Regions from separate parts of the Homo sapiens genome. Here region 1 is linked to region 2. Evidence: fine-mapped expression QTL. A gene starts in region 2. The other region holds a variant in brackets. All regions are shown on one strand. Distances are from middle to middle.

Evidence for each region. PIP is the estimated chance that this variant, and not a neighbour inherited with it, causes the effect.
Region 1: its variant is fine-mapped to the expression of BCKDK in whole blood (TOPMed, PIP above 0.99).

Annotation. Positions count from the first base shown.
Region 1 is chr16:31,154,527-31,164,291 of GRCh38, forward strand. No RefSeq gene overlaps it. Among named protein-coding and RNA genes, the nearest start is that of PRSS36, 9.3 kb to the left of the region's middle. The variant C/T (reference allele first, on the strand shown) is at 5,327.
Region 2 is chr16:31,104,091-31,113,855 of GRCh38, forward strand. It overlaps BCKDK (branched chain keto acid dehydrogenase kinase), which reads left to right and starts at 4,296. Exons shown (of 12, transcript NM_005881.4): 1 at 4,296-4,389; 2 at 4,957-5,328; 3 at 5,421-5,489; 4 at 5,583-5,693; 5 at 5,987-6,034; 6 at 6,115-6,234; 7 at 6,311-6,409; 8 at 6,598-6,671; 9 at 7,001-7,129; 10 at 7,210-7,299; 11 at 7,779-7,937; 12 at 8,031-8,701. The coding sequence starts at 5,134. The coding sequence ends at 8,175. RefSeq lists enhancers at 1,596-2,412, 4,020-4,913, 4,914-5,806 and a silencer at 4,149-4,688.

The DNA of each region.
Region 1 (9,765 bases), 50 kb after region 2:
TCCAGGCATGTGTCACCATGCCTAAGGTTGATTTTTATAGTGCTGCTTAATTTCAGCCTATGACACCATAAACAAACCACAGTCAATAAAATAAGGATATGTGGGTGGTGCCTCTGGGTAAGAAAGGTGATACATACGCAGTTCTCTACTGGTCTGACTAGTGGAGGGGGAAATGATAGGTGAACTAGTATATTAGTTTTCCATTGCTGATGTAACAAATTCCCATATACTCAGTGGATTAAAACAATACCAACTTATTATGTTACAATTTCAAAGATTAGAAGTCTGGCACGGGGCCGGGTGTGGTGGCTCACGTCTGTAATCCATCCCAGCACTTTGGGAGGCTGAGGTGGGCAGATCACTTGAGGTCAGGAGTTCGAGACCAGCCTCGCCAACACAGTGAAACCCCGTCTCTACTAAAATTACAAAACTTAGGCACGTCTCTACTAAAAATACAAAAAATTAGCCGGGCATGGTGGCAGGCGCCTGTAATCTCAGCTACTCGGGAGGCTGAGGCAGGAGAATCGCTTGAACCTGGGAGGCGGAGGTTGCAATGAGCTGAGATCACACCACTGCACTGCAGCTTGGGCGACAGAGTGAGACTCCGTCTCAAAAAAAAAAAAAAAAAAAAAGACCAGGCGCAGTGGCTCATGCCTTGTAATCCCAGCACTTTGGGAGGCTGAGGCGAGAGCATCACTTGAGCTCAGGAGCTTGAGACCAGCCTGGAAAACATAGTGAAAACTTCATCTCTATTCCTAAAAATAAAAATTAAGAAAAGATAACTGGCAGAATAGACGAAAGCTAAACATATGCCTGTATTTTGACCCAACAATCAAGATCCTAGGTATAGACCTAAGAGAAATGAGGGTGCCATAAGGCATATGCAGAGCATGGCACTCATAGAAGGTCTAGATACAAGAGCCAAGATCCAGAACATAAATGTCCGGCCCCAGGAAAATTGATAAATTGTGGCATAGTCATACACTGAAATACTATGCAGCAATAAAAAAGAATGAATTACTGATATCTGCAACAACATGGATGAATCTTACAGATTTTTTTTTCAACAAATATGTGTCATATTGCATGATTCCAATTATATGCAATTTAGGAACAAGCATAACTAATCCCCAGTGGTAGAAGTCAGAATAGTGGCCGGACACGGTGGCTCACACCTGTAATCCCAGCACTTTGGGAGGCTGAGGCAGGCGGATCACTTGAGGTCAGGAGTTCAAGACCAGCCTAGCCAACACAGTGAAACCCTGTCTCTACTAAAACACAAAAATTAGCCGGGTGTGGTGGCACATGCCTGTAATCCCAGCTACTCAGGAAGCTGAAGCAGAAGAATCGCTTGAACCTGGGAAGCGGAGGTTGCAGTGAGCCGAGATAGCACCACTGCACTCCAGCCTGGGTGACAGAGCAAGATTCCATCTCAAAAAAAAAAAAAAAAAAAAAAAGGAATCAGAATAGTGGTTGCTTCTGGTGGAAGTATTATATTATGTGGGAAGGAGCACAGAGAAACTTGCTAGAGTGCAAGAAAGTTCTAGATCTTGATGTAGGTGTGTATATACACAGGAATATACACATGCAGAGTTTCACTGAGCCGTACCCTTAAGATCAGGACTCTCTATGAACTTAGCTAGAGATGCTGAGGTGGGAGGATCTCTTGAGCCCAGGAGTTTTGAGACTAGCTTGGGCAGCATAATGAGACCCCATCTCTAAAAAAAAAAAAAAAAAAAAAAGTTTACACCTGTATCCCAGCACTTTGTGGGGCCAAGGCGGGTATATCCCCTGAGGTTGGGAGTTCAAGACCAACCTGACCAACACAGTGAAACCCTGTCTCTACTAAAAAAAAAAAAAAAATACAAAATTAGCTGGGCATGGTGGTGCATGACTATAATCCCAGCTACCTGGGAGGCTGAAACAGGAGAATCACTTGAATCCAGGAGGCAGAGGTTGCAGTGAGCTGAGATCGTGCCATTACACTCCGGCCTGGACAACAAGAGCAAAACTCCGTCCCCAAAATAAATAAAATAAAATAAAAATTAGCCAGGCATGGTGGCATGCACCTGTAGTCCCAGCTACTCGGGCTGAGGTAGAAGGTTCACTTAAGCCCAGGAGGTCGAGGCTGCAACGAGCTATGATTGCACCACTACACTCCAGCCTGGGTGACAGAGCGAGACTCTGTCTCAAAAAAGAAAAAAAAAAAAAAAAGAAAAGAAAAGAAAGAAAGAAGGAAAGAAAAAAAAAACTATATGGTTATTCCACATGAGTAAAAAGAAATTAAAAGAGGCAAAACACACTTTGCAAATAAATGGATTCCAGAGTCAATTAAGAAAAAGCCAAACGAACTAGCTCCAGAAATGCTTTCCTGGACCAAAAACGTTGGGAAAATGTGCAGCTTTACATCCGATAACACCAGGGCATGTGTGTAATGTTGTTTCTGAAAGCTTAGCTAAAATAATGAAACCCTTCAGCATTTGGAAAAACAAGAAAAGCATGCTTAACCAAAGATGTTGATATTATGTTTCCTGATAAAAGAGATCATGTTTTTTAAAGGATTTTGGTAACAGGTTACTTTTTTTCTGAATTGGCTTTGTCACTAAAATGTCTGGTTATCACTGACCTACAAAAAAAGGCATTCTTCAGATAATCCTTGATAGTATTGTTGCTCTCACCACACTTTCCAAAGGTGCTGACCAGAGGGAGCAGAAGACTGTTTCACAGCTCAAGCACACAGCCGCACGCGCTCCACACCAGCGAAGCCCAGCAGTGCCGCATCTCATCGTGAAAAGAGGAAGCCAGAAGCTGGGAGTCACTCCACTTCTGGTCAGGGCTGTTCTGTGGAATATACTGTGGGCAGGGCCACATGTCTCCTCGAAAAATAATCTGGGCTGTCTGTCCTCATGCACACCAGAATGGGTGCCATGACAGAGAAAGCTGCATTTTATTTTCATTTTTTATTTGAGACGGAGTCTCACTCTGTTGCTCAGGCTGGGGTGCAGTGGTGCAATCTCCACTCACTGCAGCCTTTGCCTCCTGGGTTCAAGTGATTCTCCTGCCTCAGCCTCCCAAGTAGCTCGAATTACAAGTGCCCACCATCATGCCCAGCGAATTTTTGTATTTTTAGTAGAGACAGGGTTTCATCATGTTGGCCAGGCTAATCTTGAACTCCTGACCTCAAGTGATCCACCCGTCTCAGTCTCTTAAAGTGTTGGGATTACAGGCGTGAGCGCAGCCACTGCAAACATTTGGTTTGTAAAACTCTTTTTTTTTTTGAGACGGAGTTTTGCTTTTGTCCCCCAGGCTGGAGTGCAGTGTTGCGATCTCAGCTTACTGCAACCTCTGCCTCCCGGGTTCAAGTGATTCTCCTGCCTCAGCCTCCTGAGTAGCTAGGATTACAGGTGTCCACCACCATGCCCGGCTAATTTTTTTGTATTTTTAATAGCGATGGGGTTTCGCCATGTTGGGCAGGCTGGTCTCCAACTCCTGACCTCAGGTGATCTGTCCGCCTCAGCCTCCCAAAGTGCTGGGATTATAGGCGTGAGCCACCACACCCAGCTGGTGTATAAAACTCTTAAAGCACGTGTCACTCCTTTTGGAGTGCCTGCTAAAATACAGAATACTTAGCTCAGTCTGAATTTGAGATAAACGATTTTTTTTTTTTTTACTATAACTAGGTCTCAGGAAATACTTGAGTTATATTGAAAATTATTTGTCGGGCCAAGTGAAGTGGCTCACACCTGTAATCCCAGCACTTTGGGAGGCTGAGGCAGGTGGACTGCTTGAGCTCAGGAGTTTAAGATCAGCCTGGGCAATATAGTGAGACCCCATCTCTACAAAGAGTTTTTTAAAAAATTAGCTGGATGTGGGCCAGGCGTGGTGGCTCAAGCCTGTGGTCCCAGCACTTTGGGAGGCTGAGGCGGGCGGATCACGAGGTCAGGAGATTGAGACCATCCTGGCTAACACAGTGAAACCCCGTCTCTGCTAAAAAGAAAATACAAAAAAATTAGCCGGGCATGGTGGCGGGCACCTGTAGTCCCAGTTACTCGGGAGGCTGAGGCAGGAGAATGTCGCGAACCCAGGAGGCAGAGCTTGCAGTGAGCTGAGATAGCGCCCCTGCATTCCAGCCTGGGTGACAGAGCGAGACTCCGTCTCAAAAAAAAAAAAAAATAGCTGGATGTGGTGGTGTGCACTTGGGAGCTACTTGGGAGGCTGAGGTGGGAGGATGGCTTGAGCCCAGGAGGCAGAGGTTGCAGTGAGCCATGCCACTGCACTCCTGCCTGGGCAACAGAACCAGACCCTATCTCAAAAAAAAATTATTTGTGTTTCCAATAGGCACAGGGCTCACGTCTGTAATCCCAGTGGTCTGGGAGGCTGAGGCAGGAGGATCACTTGAGACCAGGAGTTCGAAACTGCAGTGAGCTATGATTGCACCATTGCATTCCAGCCTGGGTGACAGAGCAAGACCCTGTCTTAAAAAAAAATTATTTGTGTTTACCTGAAATTCAGATTTAATCGGGCACTTATTTTATTTGCTAAATCTGGTTGGGAGTGGTGGCTCATGCCTATAATCCCAGCACTTCAGGAGGCTGAGGTGTGAGGATTACTTGAGTCTAGGAGTTCGAGACCAGCCTGGGCAACGTAACATAGACCCCGTTTGTACAAAATTTTTTTGTAAAATAAAAAAGGAGTAAAATAAAATTTTTTGCTAAACCTGGCAACCCTGTTCCCTATTCCATAATATTATCTTGCTAAGTCACTATATTGTTGCATATCTGCTTGGAAGAAATAACTTTTTTTTTTTTTGAGACGGAGTTTTGCTCTTGTTGCCCAGGCTAGAGTGCAATGGCACGATCTTGGCTCACTGCAACCTCCACCTCCTGGGTTCAAGTGATTTTCCTGCCTCAGCCTCCCCAGTAGCTGGGATTACAGGTGTATACCACCACTCCCAGCTAATTTTGTATTTTTACAATTTTGTATTCTGGAGTATTTTAAATACGATAGAGTATTGTATTTTAAATACAAAATTGTATTTTACAATTTTGTATTTTAGAGACGGGGTTTCACCCTGTTGGCCAGGCTGGTCTTGAACTCCTGACCTCAGGAGATCTGCCCGCCTTGGCCTCCCAAAGTGTTGGGATTACAAACATGAGCCACTTCGCCTGGCCAGAAATAACTTGTTCTCAGAAAAAACTTGGAGTTAGAATGTTATTCTATGAGGGACCCTCTGAGTGGGAATATTTGAGAGACTTGATAAAATTGGGAACATGTTGTGTGTTGACTCCACGCTTGACTGATATGATCAAGACATCCCCTTGGTGCT[C/T]CCTCTCGTGGCAAGAAGAGTAACTGCTCCTTCAATTTCACTCCCAGACTCTGCCCCCACCTCCCCACCCACCTCTTGGTCTCCAGGGACCATGCTGGTACCCTGAGCCTGTCGGAGCCAGAGATTGCCCCAGGACTCAGCGCTTTAGCCTCAAATGAGTTGCCCTACTTCAAAGGGACCTCACTTTGTGAGATGCACTGTATAGAATTTTTTTTTTTTTTTGAGATGGAGTCTCGCTGTGTCGCCCAGGCTGGAGTGCAATGGCATGATCTCAGCTCACCGCAACCTCTGCCTCCCGGGTTCAAGTGATTCTTGCCCCAGCCTCCCGAGTAGCTGGGATTACAGGCATGTGCCACCACGCCCAGCTAATTTTGTATTTTTTAGCAGAGACAGGGGTTCTCCATGTTGGCCAGGTTGGTCTCGAACTCCCAACCTCAGGTGATCCGCCCACCTTGGCCTCCCAAAGCGCTGGGATTACAGGTGTGAGCCACCGTGCCTGGCCCTAATTTTTGTATTTTTAGTAGAGACGGGGTTTCACTATGTTGGCCAGGCTGGTCTTGAACTATTGAGCTCAGGTTATCCACCTGCCTCAGCCTCCCAAAGTGCTGGGATGACAGGCATGAGCCACCGTGCCTGGCCATTGTATGCAATTTGGAGGGTGGTTCCTGAGACACAGAGAGAACAATCCGAGTTGGAGTCTGAGGAGGTGGCAGCTCATTGCTGGGAGAGAGACGTCCTCCTGCTTCTGAGGGGAGCAGTTTTGGGGTGCTCCTGCATAAACTGTATGGGGTCCGGGAGAGCTCTTGGGGGCAAGAGAGGAGGTCAGGATGGGATGGGGGTGAGGGCGAGGTTTTTGAGTCATGGCTGGAGGCAACAAGGCTTATGGCCCTGACTTGGAGGCCTGAGCACAGCGAGCTTTCTGAACCCCTCTGGAAAACAAAGGAGGTGGGGTGTTGCAGGACCTCAGGTACTCAAGCTGAGCAGCCATTTCTCCTGCAGGTTGTTTGTATTTTCTGAATTCTGAACATCTGAAACGAGAATGCGTATGAGAGGGGAAGCTGTTTAGATAATGAAAACCCATTGAGATTAGTTTAATCAAACACACAGGGACACGGACAGGCGTGGTGGCTCACGCCTGTAATCCCAACAGTTTGGGAGGCTGAGGTGGGTGATCATCTGAGGTCAGGAGTTTGAAACCAGACTGGCCAATATGGTGAAACCCTGTCTCTACTTAAAAAAAAGTACAAAAAATTAGCAGGGAGTGGTGGCTCACGCCTGTAATCCCAGCACTTTGGGAGGCCGAGGCGGGTGGATTGCCTGAGGTCTGGAGTTCAAGAGCAGCCTGGCCAACATAGTGAAACACCATCTCTTCTAAAAATACAAAAAATTAGCTGGGAGTGGTGGCGGGCACCTGTGATCCCAGCTACTAAGGAGGCTGAGACAGGAGAATCGCTTGAACCCAGGAGGCAGAAGTTGCAGTGAGCCAAGATCGCGCCATTGCACTCCAGCCTGGGCAACAAGAGTGAAACTCCGGGCTAGATGAGGTGGCTCACGCCTGTAATCCCAGCACTTTGGGAGGCCAAGGTGGGCAAATCATGAGGTCAGGAGGTCGAGACCAGCCTGGCCAACATGGTGAAACCCCCTTTCTACTAAAAATACAAAAAATTAGCTGGGTGTTTGGTAGTGGCAGGCGCCTGTAATCCCAGGCTGAGGCAGGAGAACTGCTTGAACCTGGGAGGTGGAGGTTGCAGTGAGCTGAGATTGTGCCACTGCACTCCAGCCCTGGTAACAGAGTAAGACTCTGTCTCAGAAAAAAAAAAAAAAGAAAAGAAAAAGAAAAAAAAATTAGCCAGGTGTGGTTGCAGGCACCTGTAATCCCAGCTACTCGGGAGGCTAGGCAGGATAATCGCTTGAACCTGGGAGGCGGAGGTTGCAGGGAGCCGAGATCGCGCCACTGCACTCCAGCCTGAGCAACAAGAGTGAAACTCAATCTCAAAAAAAGAAAAAAAAGTGTTTGTCCCTGCTTAAAAGTCTCTGTGGCGGCTCTAGGCTCTTATAATAAACTCAAGCTCTCCTTGGTCGCTGCTCACTGTCCCGGTCCCCGCCTGCTCCCTGTGTTCCTTGTTGCCATGCCTCAGAAAATTGAGGAAATCAAGGTCTTTCTGCTCACAGCCCGACAAAAGGATGCCAAATCTGTCAAGATCAAGAAAAATAAGGACAATGCGCCGGGCACGGTGGATCATGCCTGTAATCCCAGCACTTTGGGAGGTCTAGGCGGGTGGATCACGAGGTCAGCAGTTCAAGACCAGCCTGACCAACATGGTGAAACCCCGTCTCTACTAAAAATACAAAAAATTAGCTGGACATGGTGGCGGGCACCTGTAATCCCAGCGACTTGGGAGGCTGAGGTAGAAGAATCGCTTGAAACTGGAAGGCGGAGGTTGCAGTGAGCCGAGATTGCACCACTGCACTCTAGCCTGGGCAATAAGAGCAAAACTCTGTCTCAAAATAAAAAAAAGAAAAAAAAGAAAAAAAAAGAAAAATAAGGACAATGTGAAGTTTAAAGTTCGATGCAGCAGATACCTTTATACCCTGGTCATCATTGACAAAGAGAAGGCAGAGAAATTGAAGCAGTCCCTGGCCACCATGCCTGGCTAATTTTGTATTTTCAGTAATTCTGTATTTTAGTAATGTAGTATTTCGTATTTTAGTAATTTTGTATTTTAGCCTCCAGAGTAGCTGGGACTACTTGGATGCCACCACGCCCAGCTAGGTTTTTACATTTTTTGTAGAGATGGGGGTCTTGCTATGTTGCTGAGGCTGGTCTTGAACTCCTGGCCTCAAGGAATCCTCCCACCTTTGCCTCCTGAAGTGTTGGGATTACAGGCGTGAGCCACTGCTTCCAGCCATTGGTAAATTTCGCACAATTTTTGTACTGGCCCAGAGAGTTTTGCATATCGTCAGCCACAGAAAAAGTAGCAAGTAACAATTATGTTACACAAACAGCCACATAATTGTCCCTGGTAGACTAAAGTAAACCATATCTGTTTCTCCAATTTTACACTCTTTCATGGTTAGGTTTTTTGGCGATCCGATAATGTGTTTCTTCTTCTGCCACCACGGAGAAAAAACACATATTCACCTAAAAATACTAAAGTCAAATTTACTAATAAAAATGTCTTCCTATTTCGATACGCATCATCAGGTTAAAAAACCCTCTGAGGCTGGGCGCAGTGGCTCACGCCTGTAATCGCAGCACTTTGGGAGGCTGAGGGGGGCGGATCACCTGAGGTCAAGAGTTTGAGACCAGCCTGACCAACATGGAGAAACCCTATCTCTACTAAAAATACAAAAGTAGCTGCGTGTGGCGGTGCATGCCTGTAATCCCAGCTACTTGGGAGGCTGAGGCAGGAGAATCGCTTGAACCCAGGAGGCAGAGTTTGCAGTGAGCCGAGATCGTGCCATTGCACTCCAGCCTGAGCAACAAGAACGAAAACTCTGTCTTAAAAAAAAAGAAAAACAGCTGGGCGCGGTGGCTCACACCTGTAATCCCAGCACTTTGGAAGGCCGAGGTGGGTGGATCACGAGGTCAGGAGTTTGAGACCAGCCTGGCCAACATGGTGAAAACCCGTCTCTACTAAAAATACAAAAATTAGCCAAGCGTGGTGGCGCATGCCTGTAATCCCAGCTACTCAGGAGGCTGAGGCAGGAGAATTGAGGCTTGAACCTGGGAGGTGGAGGTTGCTGTGAGCTGAGATCACCCCACTGCACTCCAGCCTGGGCAACAGAGGGAGACTCCGTGTCAAAAAACAAAACAAACAAAAAAAAACAACAAAACAACCTAAAAAACCCTCTGAGGCTGGGCGTGGTGTCTCATGCCTGTAATCCCAGCACTTCAGGAGGCTGATGCATGAGGATTGCTTGAGTCTGGGAGTTCCAGACCAGCCTGGGCAACACAGCAAGACCGTCTCTATAAAACAAACAAACAGACCCCTTCTCAAATGAGAAGGAAATCTTCCAGCTTTATTACATAATGTTTTCCCACAGCCTTTTTATTTTAATTATTATTTTTAAAATCGGGGGCAAGATGGTCTCACTATGTTGCCCAGGCTCATCTCCAAGTCCTGGGCTCAAGCCATCCTCCCACCTCAGCTTTCTAATTTGCTGGGATTACAGGCATGCACCACCATGCTCAGCATCTTGTTAATTTTTTTTTTTTTTTGAGATGGAGTTTCACTCATTGCCCAGGCTGGCGTGCAATGGAGCATTCTCAGCTCACTGAAACCTCTGCCTCCAGGGTTCAAGCGATTCTCCTGCCTCAGCCTCCTGAGGAGCTGGGATTACAAGCACCTGCCACCACACATGGCTAATTTTTTTGTATTTTTAGTAGAGACGGGGCTTCACCATGTTGGCCAGGTTGGTCTCGAACTCCCGACCTC
Region 2 (9,765 bases):
CCCATCGTCTGGGATATGAGGAGCCTCTCTGCCTGGCTGCCCAGTCTGGAAAGTGAGGAGCGTCTCTGCCCGGCCGCCATCCCATCTAGGAAGCGAGGAGCGCCTCTTCCCCGCCGCCTTCCCATCTAGGAAGTGAGGAGCGTCTCTGCCCGGCCGCCCATCGTCTGAGATGTGGGGAGCACCTCTGCCCCGCCGCCCTGTCTGGGATGTGAGGAGCGCCTCTGCTGGCCGCAACCCTATCTGGGAGGTGAGGAGCGTCTCTGCCCGGCCGCCCCGTCTGAGAAGTGAGGAAACCCTCTGCCTGGCAACCGCCCCGTCTGAGAAGTGAGGAGCCCCTCCGTCCGGCAGCCACCCCGTCTGGGAAGTGAGGAGCGTCTCCGCCCGGCAGCCACCCCGTCCGGGAGGGAGGTGGGGGGGGTCAGCCCCCCGCCCGGCCAGCCGCCCCATCCGGGAGGTGAGGGGCTCCTCTGCCCGGCCGCCCCTACTGGGAAGTGAGGAGCCCCTCTGCCTGGCCAGTCGCCCCGTCCAGGAGGGAGGTGGGGGGGTCAGCCCCCCGCCCGGCCAGCCGCCCAGTCCGGGAGGTGAGGGGCGCCTCTGCCCGGCCGCCCCTACTGGGAAGTGAGGAGCCCCTCTGCCCGGCCAGCCGCCCCGTCCGGGAGGGGGGAGGGGGGGTCAGCCCCCTGCCCGGCCAGCCGCCCCGTCCGGGAGGGAGGTGGTGGGGGTCAGCCCCCCGCCCGGCCAGCCGCCCCGTCCGGGAGGTGAGGGGTGCCTCTGCCCGGCCGCCCCTACTGGGAAGTGAGGAGCCCCTCTGCCCGGCCAGCCGCCCCGTCCGGGAGGGAGGTGGGGGGGTCAGCCCCCCGCCCGGCCGGCCGCCCCGTCCGGGAGGTGAGGGGCGCCTCTGCCCCGCCGCCCCTACTGGGAAGTGAGGACCCCTCTGCCCAGCCAGCCGCCCCGTCCGGGAGGGAGGTGGGGGGGTCAGCCCCCCGCCCGGCCAGCCGCCCAGTCCGGGAGGGAGGTGGGGGGATCAGCCCCCCGCCCGGCCAGCCGCCCAGTCCGGGAGGGAGGTGGGGGGATCAGCCCCCCGCCTGGCCAGCCGCCCCGTCCGGGAGGTGAGGGGCGCCTCTGCCCGGCCGCCCCTACTGGGAAGTGAGGAGCCCCTCTGCCCGGCCAGCCGCCCCGTCCGGGAGGGAGGTGGGGGGGTCAGCCCCCCGCCCGGCCAGCCGCCCCGTCCGGGAGGGAAGTGGGGGGGGTCAGCCCCCCGCCCGACCAGCCGCCCCGTCCGGGAGGGAGGTGGGGGGATCAGCCCCCCGCCTGGCCAGCCGCCCCGTCCGGGAGGTGAGGGGCGCCTCTGCCCGGCCGCCCCTACTGGGAAGTGAGGAGCCCCTCTGCCCTGCTTGAAGGCAGCATGCTCGTTAAGAGTCATCACCACTCCCTAATCTTAAGTACCCAGGGACACAAACACTGCGGAAGGCCGCAGGGTCCTCTGCCTAGGAAAACCAGAGACCTTTGTTCACTTGTTTATCTGCTGACCTTCCCTCCACTATTGTCCTATGACCCTGCCAAATCCCCCTCTGCGAGAAACACCCAAGAATGATCAATAAAAAATAAAAATAAAAAAAAAAAAATAAAAAAATAAAAAAAAAAAAAAAGAAAGCCGCCTGACCTGTATACAGTATTCTGAAAAGGGGGTCGCGAGGTGCATGTCCAACCTCCGCCGCCGGGGGCAGCAGCGAGTCCAGGCCGAGCCGGGGCCTAGCGAGCGGGGTCAAATGGGGTGAGGCCTGTGCCAGACCTCTCCACCTCGGTGGCAGCCGCAGCCTCCTCCGCCTGCGGCTCCTGTCCACGCCGCGGCCACGTGAGCGCCAGATTCTGGCGCACAGACCACTGCCAGTCCTTTGCTGCTTTGCGCAGCCTGTCCTCCCCGCCAGGAGCACCCTTCCCGCTCCCTTTTACCACGGGCTCCAGCCGTGGCTGCCTTGGGGCTGCCGCCGCCTGGCTGTACTCCAGGACGTTGGGAAAGAACGGGTGGGAATGGTGTGGGTGGGGGTCAAAGAGGAAACCCAGAGATGCAGGGCGCCCCTTTCCCGTGGTCTGCCCCCAATTGCTCAGGCAGGCCAGTCACGGTGAGGCGTCCTCCCTCCAAGTTTATATTTATTATTATTTATTATTTATTTTTTTCACCTTCAAGTTTATTATTTATTATTTATTTATTTATTTTTGAGACGGAGCCTCTCTCTGTCGCCCAGGCTGGAGTGCATTGGCACGATCTTGGCTCACTGCAACCTCCGCCTCCCGGGTTCAAGCGATTCTTCTGCCTCAGCCTCCCGAGTAGCAGGGATTACAGGTGCATGCCACCACATCCGGCTAATTTTTGTATTTTTAGTAAAGACAGAGTTTCACCATATTGGCCAGGCTGGTCTCGAACTCCTGACCTCAGGTCATCTGCCCGCCTTGGCCTCCCAAAGTGCTGGGATTACAAGCATGAGCCACTGCACCTGGCTAACCTCCAAGTTTAAAGACAGCCGCCAGGCCCAGTGGCTCACTCCTGTAACCCCAACAACTCAGGAGGCTGAGGCCAGGAATTTGAGACCAGCCTGGGCAACATAGCGAGACCCCGGCTCTAAGAAAAATAGGCCAGGCACGGTGGGTTACGTCTGTAATCCCAGCACTTTGGGAGGCTGTGGCAAAAGGATTGCCTGAGGGGGAAAAAATCACCCTGGGGGTAGTGGTGCACACTTACAGTCTCGGCTACTTGAGAGGCTGAGGTGGGAGGATCATTTAAGTCGGAGGCTGCAGTGAGCTACTATGGAGCGACTGTATTACAGCTTGAGCAACAGAGCGAGACCCCATCTCCAAATAAATAAATAAAGATAGCCTCCAAAGATGTCACTTGCTTCACTTAGCACTTTTTATTGAACATATTTAGGAAATATATAACCATGGTAAAGAAAATTGCAATTAGTACAAATACACACTACACACATATGCACGTGCACACACTGAAACGTGTCCCTTCCAGCGCCTCCTGCCTGGATAATTTTTTTTTTTTTTGCAACGGAGTTTTGCTCTTGTTGCCCAGGATGGAGAGCAGTGGCGGGATATCGGCTCACTGCAACCTCCTCCTCCCGGGTTCGAGCGATTCTCCTGCCTCAGCCTCGCGAGTAGCTGGGATTACAGGCGCCAGCCACAACACCCGGCTGATTTTTGTATTTTTAGTAGAGACGGGGTTTTGCCAAGTTGGCCAGGCTGGTCTGGAACTCCTGAGATCCGCCCACCTCGTCCTCTCAAAGTGCTGGGATTACAGGCCTGAGCCACTGCGCCTGGCCTAAAGTAATTGTCTTCTTATTGGTTTCTCTGCCTTTGGTCTCACCAAACGCCCCACTCTAAATCACTGCAGACAAGGGGTTCTGTCTAAGGAGGAGAGCCCACCAGTTAAAACCCTTCAGTAGTTCCTAACTACCCTAGGACAAATGCAGACTTATCCTTCGCTCTCTGCTGCCGCCCCTCTCCTTCCCAGATCCCATATGGCTCCAGCCATATCCTCAGACCATCTGGGCTGTTGTCTGTCCTGCCACACACCCTTCCCACCCCGCTCCCTTGCAAGTCCTACTCAGGCTGCACCTACACAGCTGTCTCAGTTTCTATCTGAGGCTCCCGCAGCCTCCTCTGAAAGTCCTCATCACAGCCAATGATACTGAAACTGTTTTCTTATGCAGGGCACGGAAAGATCTATTCAACTCACTGCCCAATCTCCTCTCCTGGTGCAGAAAAGACACCCAGTCAGCGACTTGCATTATCTGCAGGCATGAGTGAATAATAATAATGCCTAACCCTTATATAGTGCTAATTCCACGCCTGGCACTGTTCTAGGCACTCATATAAATTCATGTAATCCACACAACCCCAAAACTGATGATATCTCTTCATCTTACCAAGCACTGAGCAGTTAAATAACTTGCTCCAGATATTAAGGGGTCGAGCTGGGGTTTGAAGCCTGGTTACCCATAAATGAACCAAGAACTGGAAGGAGGACAAGAGCTCCGAGAAGGAGTCAGGTAGGGCGTGATCTGTGCGCTTTACATCTAAGATCTTCCAGCTCCCAGGGAGCCCGTTTCATAGAGCAGGAGATAGAGGCTGGGAGGGACACGGAGAGCCTCGAGAGCCGTGTGGAGGAAGCGGTGCTGTTTGGGGTCCGGGAGCAAGGGCGTGGCCTGGATGCGCGGGCGCCCGGGACGGCACGTCCTCAGACCAAACTACAACTCCCAGGACCCAGCGGGCGCTGCCGCCCACGCGACGTCACGGCGGCGGAGGGCGCAGGCGGCTGGGCGCCTGGCGAGTGGACTGTTCGAGCCCTTCCGCTGGGACCCGGGCCCTGGCTCCGGCCCCGCGGTAAGTGGGGCGACCCCAGCCTACTCAGTCCGCGGAGGCCCCGCGGCGCACGTCCGCAGCCTCCATCACAGCGCGGGCGCGCAGACGGGGCTGGCATCTACCATATGGGGGGCATCCGGGCCGAACCAAGTGACCCGCGTGGGGGGTCCCGCTGGGGACTCCGTGCCGCACCCTCCCAAGCCGGCCCCAGGGGCCCAGGGCTGGTGTCGCACGTTCGCTGGCCGCGCTCCCAGGGCCCGGGTTTGAAGGCGCTGGGCAGGCAGGGGCAGCCCCGCCCCCTGAGAAGGGTACCCGGGACCCCGGGGCGCTGGGGCGAGGTTTTCGGGCTGGAAGGGTCTGAGGGGCTCCTCCCCCGACAGCCCTCCCACCGCCAGTAGAGCCTCGGGTTGGGGAATAGAAGCCCCCGGGAGGCTAGGTCCTTTGGGCGCGGCCTGTGTGCATCTGGGGAGACGGTGGGAGTGGTGGGGAGAGGTCGCCCGGGTCTGGGGAGACCGATGCACAGGTGGAGAGATGGTGCGGGTTCTGTGGATTCGGATCCTTACAACTTCCTCTTCCCCGCCCCGGTAGATGGGAGCTGCTCTCCGCGGGCTGAGCCTGTCAGCATCCTCGACGCACCCTGGTCCCTGAAGTCGGAGAAGAGCCCCTACCCACCCACACCCCCTTGCCCCATTTTGGGTCGCCTGGGTCCTCAGTCCTAGCGGATCCTCAGTCCTAGCGGCCACCGGGTCTGAAAGGAGCAAGACGATGATCCTGGCGTCGGTGCTGAGGAGCGGTCCCGGGGGCGGGCTTCCGCTCCGGCCCCTCCTGGGACCCGCACTCGCGCTCCGGGCCCGCTCGACGTCGGCCACCGACACACACCACGTGGAGATGGCTCGGGAGCGCTCCAAGACCGTCACCTCCTTTTACAACCAGTCGGCCATCGACGCGGCAGCGGAGAAGGTGCGCAAGGGGGCAGCCAGCCCAGGGTCCGGGATGTAGGCGGGAGGGAGAGTGTTGGGGGTTCTCTGCTCAAGGCCTCTCTCCCTCTCTAGCCCTCAGTCCGCCTAACGCCCACCATGATGCTCTACGCTGGCCGCTCTCAGGACGGCAGCCACCTTCTGGTAAGATTCACGCCCTCTATTTTCCTCGTGGATCCTGGAGCTCTCCCAGACACTCAGGCTCCAGCCCCGCCTTCCCTTCTCATTTTCTCCCAGAAAAGTGCTCGGTACCTGCAGCAAGAACTTCCAGTGAGGATTGCTCACCGCATCAAGGGCTTCCGCTGCCTTCCTTTCATCATTGGCTGCAACCCCACCATACTGCACGTGGTAAGGTAGAGAGGACCTTAGGTCAGCGGGCCACCCTGCCCCGGGGGCAAGTGGGGAGTCTGGGGCCCAGAGTGGCAGACGATTGCTTGCCTAAAGGTGTCAGGGCCACACAGGATTCAACCCCAGGCCTTCAGAAGCCAAAGGTGTGTATTCACGGAGCCTGGAAGGGTCGAAGTGGGGGTTTGATCACGTGGTCGACCAGCTGGGTGGTGATCCCCATGGGTAGGTGGGGGTGGCTGTTCTCTGCTCAGTGCCCATGCGGCTTTGTGAATTCCCACACCTCTTCCTTGCAGCATGAGCTATATATCCGTGCCTTCCAGAAGCTGACAGACTTCCCTCCGGTGAGTGCTGGGCCAGAGCAGGGTGAGGGGCTGAGAGGTTGGGCTTGGACCACCCTTCCTCATGACTCTGTGACCTGCAGATCAAGGACCAGGCGGACGAGGCCCAGTACTGCCAGCTGGTGCGACAGCTGCTGGATGACCACAAGGATGTGGTGACCCTCTTGGCAGAGGGCCTACGTGAGAGCCGGAAGCACATAGAGGTTGGGGCAGCAAAGGAGAGGCCGGGCCTGCTGGGGGTGGGAAGGGCACGGGATTCTGAGACCTCACTCTTTACAGGATGAAAAGCTCGTCCGCTACTTCTTGGACAAGACGCTGACTTCGAGGCTTGGAATCCGCATGTTGGCCACGCATCACCTGGCGCTGCATGAGGACAAGGTGGGGCTCTGGGACCTGAGACCCACCTGGGAACATTAAGTGAGACAGAGGAGACTGGGCTGGGGATCCGGGTCAAGGGCCTGGGGGCTGAGGCTGTGGGGCTGGTGCTTTGGGGCAGTTCCGAAGTTGCCAGCATCTTGGGGTGGGGCTAGGGGCGTGGGTAGTCCTGACCTCCTTTCTCCGGCCAGCCTGACTTTGTCGGCATCATCTGTACTCGTCTCTCACCAAAGAAGATTATTGAGAAGTGGGTGGACTTTGCCAGGTGAGGCAAGAATGGCTCAGGGGGTGGGCAGACATCTGGGGCAGGGAAGGCTTGGGTCTGAGCCCTTGCCCGGGGCATGATCTGCGGGGAGCAGGGTTTCTCAACCATGGCACTATTGACATTTCCAGCCAGATAATTCTTTGTCACAGGGGCTGCCCCGTGCACGTTAGGAAGTTCAGCAGCATCCCTGGCGCCAGCAGTACTGCCTAGTTGTGACAAACAAAAATGTCTCTGCACATTGCCATATGTTACTTAGGGGGGCAGAATTGTTTCCAGTTGCAAACCACTGGTGGAGGGGCCCCTGACTGAACCCTCGCTCCTATCCGCAGACGCCTGTGTGAGCACAAGTATGGCAATGCGCCCCGTGTCCGCATCAATGGCCATGTGGCTGCCCGGTTCCCCTTCATCCCTATGCCACTGGACTACATCCTGCCGGAGCTGCTCAAGAATGCCATGAGGTGGGGTGGCTTGATGTGCTGGCTTGGGGGCGGACAGGAACCGGGGTGCTTGTACCTACTGGTCTTTCCCCTCTGCATAGAGCCACAATGGAGAGTCACCTAGACACTCCCTACAATGTCCCAGATGTGGTCATCACCATCGCCAACAATGATGTCGATCTGATCATCAGGTTTGCCCTGAGTGGGAGTTGAGCTGAGGTGGATGGGATGGGGGTCTAGGCACTGTTTCTGACTTGATTTAGGACCTTGAGCCCCTTCCTGCCCCATTCTGGGACTTGGTCCCTGACCAGACAAACTATTCTCTGAATCCTGAGATGGCCATGAGCTGCTTATTAATGGATCTGGGGCCAGCTGCAGGCCTAGGTATCCTGCCTCTGTCAGCAGCTGAGGAGCTTGAAATTGAGAAATAGTCAGGAGTCGGTCTAGGATGCTGGGCCGAGGATAAATGTCACATCCTGTGAGAAGGTATAAGCAGTCAGTGGCCCTGGCAGGGGTGAGGATGATATAAACAAGGCCCAAGGGTCTAGGTGGACCACATTCCAGCTCTGGGTGGAAGGAACAGGAAGGCAGACTTTGCACTGTCTGCTTGGGGGGTGGTGAGTACCCCATCAAAGCTGAGCCAAGCCCATTGTTGTTGCCATCTTGCTAGGATCTCAGACCGTGGTGGAGGAATCGCTCACAAAGATCTGGACCGGGTCATGGACTACCACTTCACTACTGCTGAGGCCAGCACACAGGACCCCCGGATCAGCCCCCTCTTTGGCCATCTGGACATGCATAGTGGCGCCCAGTCAGGACCCATGCACGGGTGAGACCCTGCCAGGCCAGGATGGAGGGGTGGGGGACCCCAGGAGACTCAAGCCTCTGAAGCCTCCTGTCCTGTCCCCCTGCCCACCCCCAGCTTTGGCTTCGGGTTGCCCACGTCACGGGCCTACGCGGAGTACCTCGGTGGGTCTCTGCAGCTGCAGTCCCTGCAGGGCATTGGCACGGACGTCTACCTGCGGCTCCGCCACATCGATGGCCGGGAGGAAAGCTTCCGGATCTGACCCCACAGCCTTTGGCCTGCTCACCCGACCAGCCTGGGCCGCATTCCCTGCAGGACCTCCCGGGTCAGGCAGGGCGGCCCCCTGCTCCACACACTGCTGCATCTTGGGTCTCAGGGACCCAGACAGATGGACTTACATGGAGCTGGGCACTGCCCTGCCTCAACAGGGTCCATTGCCTCCTCGCCTCCAGAACTTGGAGCAGGGAAGTGGGCACCCTGAGGCCTCCAGCACCAGTTCCGTCATTCTCGTTCCTGGGGAACCCCCACTCTGACCTGTTATTAAAGTTCACATTTTGAATGCCCTCTCGGGCCCCGTGTGTGGGGAGGGCAGGTGAACTTTTGTTTCTGCCCCCATTCAGGTTCACTGAGCCCTTGGGTTGAACTGGTTCGTGTCCCAGTCTCTTACCTGCCCTGAGAGCCTGGCAGGCCAGGAGTAGAATGGGTCCCAAGTCTGTTGCATGTTTGATTTGGTGGGAGTGGGATGACTGCAGCACCTTATACAAAGAGCTTTCATTCATCTTGTTGAACAAATGTTTCCGGGTCCCAGATAATATTGAAGGCCCAGACTGACCCAGCTTCGGGCATCAGTTTTGACTCTTCCTTTCCTGGCAGTCACAGTTTCTAGAGGTGAAGGTCACCAGACTGGGCAAACTCCTGAGCCAACTGCTTCCCAAGCCTGAGTAGGTTAAAAATACTGTGTCTGCTGCTGCCAAGGAAAAGAACATACAAGGTTGTGCCTTGGCAGGCCCTAGCAGGGACTGGGTGCCCCACTGCAAGGAAAGGTGGGGCCCTGATAGAAAGGACCAAGGATTTGGGCAAAGATATCAGGTAGGCTCAAGGTTAGACCTGAATCAGAACTCCAGATGACATCTTAGGTAGGAACACCCTACCCACCTTGCCAGGGAAGAAAGGCCTAAGGGCGGCCTGGTGGGGCTGGGAGGAGAACTGGAAAGTTCTCTTGCCTTCACATGTGAGCTCCCACAGCAAACTTCCTGAGGCTGGCTCTAGGCCTGTACCATCTCCTACCCTTCACGGGGATGGAGGGGAAGTTGTATGTGGAAGCCAAATGGCAGGGGCTAGGAAACCACAGTGACTTGCTAGACTGAAAAATCCCGCCAGCTGCAAGGCAGGGTGCTGAGGCTGGAGAGGCAGGCAGCAGTCAGAGGCCAGGGCCCTGAAACATGGGATTTATCTTGAGCCATAGGGATCCATGGGTGAGTTTTTATTTATTTAGAAATGGGGTCTTGCTCTGTTGCCCAGGCTGGAATATGGTGGCTGCAGAGTTCACTGCAGCCTTGAACTCCTGGGATCAAGAGATTCTCCCACCTCAGCCTTCTGAGTAGCTTGGACCATCATGCCAGGCTAAATTTTAAAATTTTTTGTAGAAACAGGGTTTCTACAAAGCCCTATGTTGCCCCGGGCTGGACTTGAACTTCTGGGCTCAAATGATCCTTCCACCCCAGCCTCCCAAAGTGGTGGGGTTACAGGCATGAGCCACTGCAGCTGGCCCATGAGTGGGTTTTGAGCTGGGAAGGGATGTTTCTGGTTGGAGTCCCTGAGAGGATTCATGTCCACGTGATTTCTTAAGAAA